Homo sapiens: one gene and its partner. The protein of the gene in region 2 purifies or fractionates together with the protein of the main gene of each other region. This does not show direct contact. Each region holds a gene or a part of one and is shown on either strand. Other genes may lie near its edges.

Evidence for each region.
Region 1: the proteins of OR6B1 (region 2) and KIAA1549 purify together in Homo sapiens (affinity purification with mass spectrometry; one large-scale study listed by BioGRID and IntAct). This does not show direct contact.

What each region holds. Positions count from the first base shown.
Region 1 is NC_000007.14:138,834,890-138,838,389, reverse strand, and holds part of KIAA1549 (UPF0606 protein KIAA1549), read left to right. Parts: intron 1-229; coding exon 230-484; 3' UTR 485-3,500. UniProt on the Homo sapiens protein: May play a role in photoreceptor function.
Region 2 is NC_000007.14:144,006,307-144,009,293, forward strand, and holds the end of OR6B1 (olfactory receptor 6B1), read left to right. Parts: 3' UTR 1-2,487; downstream 2,488-2,987. UniProt on the Homo sapiens protein: Odorant receptor.

The DNA.
Region 1 (3,500 bases), 5.2 Mb from region 2:
TCACCCGACCTTTCACATCATGGGGCACTCCAGCCTCCCTCCCTTCTGTTCTCCCCAGCCCCCTGGTGTCTTCACGCCTCACCTGCAGCATAGGCAGCAGGGCCCTGTTAGAGGGCTGAGTTGGTGGATGGACGTGGGCAGTCCTGGGAACCTTCCTAAAGCCAGTTTGCATTTGATGTTTCGGCTTATTCTTCGTAGGAAGTACAGTGACGTTTGCCATGTTTTTCAGACACACATGCTCGGACATCAAGAGTATTCTTCTTCACCGCTATTTCAGGTGCCAAGGACTTCAGGCAGGGAGCCCTCAGCTCCTTCCGGGAACCTCCCCCACCGGGGACTGCAGGGCCCTGGGCTGGGTTACCCCACCAGCTCCACGGAAGACCTCCAGCCTGGCCACTCCTCGGCCTCTCTCATCAAAGCAATCCGCGAGGAGCTCCTCCGGCTCTCCCAGAAACAGAGCACCGTGCAGAACTTCCACAGCTGATCGGCCTCGCCTCGCAGATTTGCCAAGTATCCGCTTCCTGTGGAAGCAAGACCAAAAGGAAATCAACTGAGTGGGTGTTTGGAAGAGGAAGGAGCAACTCTCGGGCAGCCTGCCCAAGGGAGGGAGCAAGTTGCAATTTAGAAGATGCCATACGTCGTGTGACAGCTCATGAGCCTTTCACTGGGCTGGCAATTGTCTGAACACTTGGGTTCAGTTGAAATATATGTATTTTGGCCAAAAGCCAGCAGCACTTCACAAAAACAAAACACAAACCTAAGCTAACAAAATGACTGCATTCGTCTCTTTTTTAAAGGTAGAGATTAAACTGTATAGACAGCATAGGGATGAAAGGAACCAAGCGTTTCTGTGGGATTGAGACTGGTACGTGTACGATGAACCTGCTGCTTTGTTTTCTGAGAAGAGGTTTGAAGACATTTTATTAACAGCTTAATTTTTCTCTTTTACTCCATAGGAACTTATTTTAATAGTAACATTAACAACAAGAATACTAAGACTGTTTGGGAATTTTAAAAAGCTACTAGTGAGAAACCAAATGATAGGTTGTAGAGCCTGATGACTCCAAACAAAGCCATCACCCGCATTCTTCCTCCTTCTTCTGGTGCTACAGCTCCAAGGGCCCTTCACCTTCATGTCTGAAATGGAACTTTGGCTTTTTCAGTGGAAGAATATGTTGAAGGTTTCATTTTGTTCTAGAAAAAAAAAATCCCTCCCAAAGTGGGGCAAAAAGCTTTATATTTATTTGATTATCCAAAATACAGATCAAAGTTTAGATCTACATTCTTCATTGTATTTGCTGTTTCTTAATTGGGCACACACAACTCCTGGTCATGTCCCAGTTCAGCACCGATCGCTAAGGCCGATCCTGTAGAATGCGGCTTTCAAGAGGTCCTAACTGATCCTTTCTTCCACTTTGCTGTTGATTTGTTCACAAATTATGTCTGAATGAGAAATCTTCTGTAAGCAGAAGTTATTTAATAATTCCCAGCACCACGAAATTGTTATACATACATCCCTACCAGTCACATTCCCTGTGTTCAGAGCCTGGAAATGAAATTGAGTTCAGTTCAGCCTCTCTGTAATGAATCAAGAAATGTAAAAGAGCTTTGAGACCCCAAGGGAAAGGAGAGAGTTGCTTCTCATTTCTGATTTTATTGTGCTGTTACTCTGTCGAGTGGCTATTAAAATTGTCTTATGCTCTTTGGGCTAAGAGGGGATCATCTCGCTTAAGATGTACTCCTGATGTAAACATTTCCCCCACTTTCCAAATAATGGTAAAGAAAACAGTGGCAAGGGCTGTTCTGTTTTCTGGTACCTGAGTGAAACTCAGAAGAAAAGCAGGCTTAGCTAAGAGATTTTCACTATTAACCTGTTTTTATTAGATCAGCGAAGACAGTCATGCATCGCTTAATGATGGGGATGCATTCTGAGAAATGTGTCATTAGGCTGTTTTGTTGCTGTGCCAACATCCTAGATTGTACTTACACAACCTACATGGTATAGCCTACTACACACCTGGGCTGTGTGGCATGGCCTATTCCTCTTAGGCTACAAACCTGTACAGCATGTTACTGTACTGAACACAATGGTAAGTATTTGTGTATCTAAACATAGCTAAACATAGAAAAGGTATGGTAAAAATACAATTTTATAATCTTATGGGACTACCATCAATATGTAGACCGTCATTGACCAAAACATCCTGATGTGTGCATGACTGTACTTTTCATTAAATAACAGATAAGGGGCTATAGAATTTGGGGCTCTGACTGATCAAAACCTGTGTATCTGTGTCAAGTTTTAAGACCCCTGAAACAGCTAAAACAGGTTTCCAAAGTGTAATCACTGGATTTCAAAACCATGTTTTAGCCCTTCATTAATGAAGCCTGTTGTACAGATTTAGAGTCTTACAATATGAGGGAAGTTGGTTCTGGGAAGGTAAGATGTAGCCAGTTTTCATCTGGGCACCTCTGAAAGAGAAGGAGTGCAGGAGAGTAAGTCTCTCAAGGACGTTCAACAAAGGACCAGCAGCATCTTATCAGGCGATCCTCAGAGGCTCCAAGGAGCATTGGAGAGAATGCCCCTTTCTGGGCTTGATGTCTTGGTTTTGGTTTAATACCAAATTTCTCTTGGTCTTGGTTTAATACCCGACTCCTCCCAAATTGAACGATTATCTTTGTATGTCACTCAAAAATACCAGGTTTCCTGAATATGTTATTAAGAATTTCAGATATCCAAGCAGAATTTTATTATGGACACCTTGTAATGAATTCAAATCGTGTGACAGCAAACGGGATAAATGGCCCCTTCTCACCCAGTTCCGCTCAGGGCCATACAGGCTTGCACATAGAGTGTGCTAAAAATGGTAACCTCCTTTGAGCATTGCAGAAAGAGGGTTCTGTTTCAAATTGGGCTGACCGTAAAAGCAATTTTGATGTCTTTCAAACTACCATAAAGGGATTTTAACTGTATTTTTATTCTTAGAAACAATACACCTTTAAACAGATGTCAAGACCAAAGATGATGTATAATAAACAGCCGGTGGTTATGGTGTGGTGTGAGCAGGCCCCCGGATCACCAGCCCTCTGCTGGTGGTCATAAAGCACACACAGTTTGTACTTGCTTCCTCTCGACGCCTGCCACAACAGTTTTGCCAGTCACCAAACTCAGAAAAAACTAGCTGTGTGAGCAGCACCGTACCCTAGCGGTCTTCAGACATTAAGTTCACGTCATCCACTGAAAGGAAGGGTCCTTGCGTTGACAGCGTGTGGCTTTGGAGTCCGTTTATGGAAGCACTCTACAATGAACAGTTGAATTTTATGTCTATTCTTTTTTCCTATTTTAAAAGTTCTAGTGGTAACACAAACTGTAAATTTGAGTCAGAATGTTTGGAGAAATGTTGTTTTTTTTTTTTTCAGAGACTACTTTGTCACTCACTGACCATGTCTGGTTCCTTCTCTGAACTTCATTCTCCCCATAAGCCAAACAAGAACAGACC
Region 2 (2,987 bases):
CTTTAGAAGCCAAGTATGAAAGCTAGTTGTAAAGGAATATAGTTGGAATTATGAATTACTATACCTGCAGAACAGTAATAAAATAAAAATGAAAACATGTGAATTATAGGTCCCAGAGGAAAAAAGAAACAAAAATAAAATGCAAGCACAACTTGCTTTAGGGAATAAATGTGCAAAAGAGAACAATGCTTAAAATGGAAAGGATTTAATGTTTGCTTCTGGAATGTAGTTTGGTCCCTTGATGCAACAAGTAAGTTGTGATGAATATATTTCTATTTAAAATCTAGACACACAAAAAAGAGATTATTTTCTGAAAACTTCAAATGAATCAAAATATAATTGCATAGTCATATAGGGATATTAAATGTGTGCATTAAGAAAGGAAAAGACATGTTCAGTAGGGATTAGGAAATGAAAGATAAAAAAACTCTGGCAATAACTTGAATTTTAGCCCTGGATATATATTCACCATGTGACCTTGGCCAAACCATCTATACTTTTGGAAACACTGAGTCTTTATGTGTAAAACAGGAGTAATAATAGTTGCTTGGTGTTTCTTACGCAATGGTTATGAGGATCAACTACCATGATGGAAAAGACATTGATTGTTAAATATCTTGGGCAGTGCATGATCTAAGCAAGCTGCCACTAGATTAGGGTTTGCATGGGAAAACTGTTTGGGAAGGCTATGCTCTCTGGACCTGTCTAAAACAATTCCACACCTAGTTGACTCCACATACTATAGTTATAGTTAACCTGGGAGGCTACAACTATCAGAGGCAGTTTATTTCTTTATTATTTCTCATGAATATCTTGGAAAGGGAGAATGTAGAAGTAGGGTTTCTTGGGGAATTCTATTAAATTTTTTTTTCAAATAACAGATGGAACATTGAGCTCCTTCCCCTTTGTGGAAGGAATACCTAAGTGCACAGGCTCAGCAAAGTAAGGACACAGACCAATGTAGAAATCTGCCTCAACAGAGAAAATAATGTATAGTGGATTACTGGTTAAATTCACATAGAAACAAGCTATTTCTAAGGTGACACACAAAGCAAGCCGGAAGTTTCAGGGCATTTGGTGATCTTGTTGGGGTAACCATCATAAAAGGCTGGTAGTCAGTTTCAGTAGTTTATCCAGAGAACATGCCCTGAAGATTTGATTATCACCATCCAAACTCATAAGGAACCCCACAAAATAAAATATAAATATATATTAATTACACATGCAGTATATATTTTAAATCACTATATTTATTCATTCATTTAACTAATATATATTAAAGATCTATTATGTACGTGTAGGGATACAATAGCAAAATATTAAAACTTGTTACCTTTGTGAGCAGAAACAGATAGCAGATAATACCTTTGTGTGTGTGTGTGTGTGTGTGTATACATATATATATCTAACATACATACATATTGTAATGGGTTGAATGGTGGCTCCCAAAAATATATTTTCACACTTTCAACCTGGAACTTGTGATTGGGAACTTATTTGAAAAAAAAAGAGTCTTTGAAATATAATAAAGTTAAGGACCTCAAACTGAGACCATTCTGGATTATCCGAGTGGACTCAATGTCCAATGACAAGTTCCTTATATGAGAGAGAAGAGAAAACAGAGAAGGTGATGTGAAGGTAGAGATAGAGATTGGAGTTCTGCATCCACAAGCCAAGAAATACCTTGGGCCACCAGAAGCTGGAAGATATAAGTAATGATTCTCCCCCCCTAGAGCTGTCAAAGGAAGAGAGCCCTGATGACAGCTTGATTTTGGACTCCTGGCCTCCAGAACTATAAGACAATATATTTCTGTTGTTTTAAGCTACCAAGTTTGTGGTAATTTGTTATAAAAACCCTGGGAAATAAATACACATCCCAATTTGGGTGGCAATAAGTGCTATGGATGGGGAGGAAGAAAGCATGAAAGTATAATAGGAAGTGCTGCTGGAGATGAGAAATTTTAAATAAGATGGTCACAGAATCACCAAGTGAGGAAGAAATGTTTGAGCAAAAACCTGGAGAAGCTGTGAGAGTAAGATATATGGCTACTTTGGCAAAGAACATTCCAGGTAGAGAAACAGCAAGGGAAGATATGGAGTCTTGTGTAGTATGTTTGAGGGACATTGAAGAGACTGAGCAGCCAGAGCAGTGAGAAAAGGGTAAGCAGGTGATATGGTCTGGCTCTGTTTCCCTACCCAAATCTCATCTTGATTGTAATCCCCACATATCAAAAGGGGAACCTGGTGGGAAGTGATTGCATCATGGGGGTGGTTCCCCCATGCTGTTCTCATGATAGTGAGTGAGTTCTCACAAGATCCGATGGTTTTAAAAGTGTTTGGCAGTTCCCCTCCCACTTTCTCTCTCTCTCTCTTGCCGCCATGTTAGATGTGCCTTCCTTCCCCTTCGCCTCCTGCCATGATTGTAAGTTTCCTGAGGCCTCCCCAACCATGTGGAACTGTAAGTCAATTAAACGTTTTTAAAGTAAATTACCCAGTCTTGGGTAGTTCTTTATAGTTGTGTGAAAATGAACTAATACAGAAAATTCATACCAGGAGTGGGGCACTGCTATAAAGATACCTAAAAATGTGGAAGCAACTTTGGAACTGGGTAATGGGCAGAGGTTGGAACAGCTTGGAGGGCTCAGAAAAACACAGGAAGATGTGGAAAAGTTTGGAACTTTCTAGAGACTTGTTGAATGGTTTTGACCAAAATGCTGATAGTGATACAGACAATGAAGTCCAGGCTGAGGTGGTCTCAGGTGGAGATAAGGAATTTCTTGGGAACTAGAGCAAAGGTCACTCTTCCTATGCTTTAGCAAAGAGATTGGCAGCATTTTGCCCCTGCTCTAGAGACCTGTGGAACTTTAAACTTGGGAGAGATAATTTTCTGGTACCTGGCAGAAGAAATTTCTAAGCAGCAAAGCATTCAAGATGCAACCTGGCTTTTTCTGAAAGCATATAGTCATATGCTTTCATAAAGTGATGAT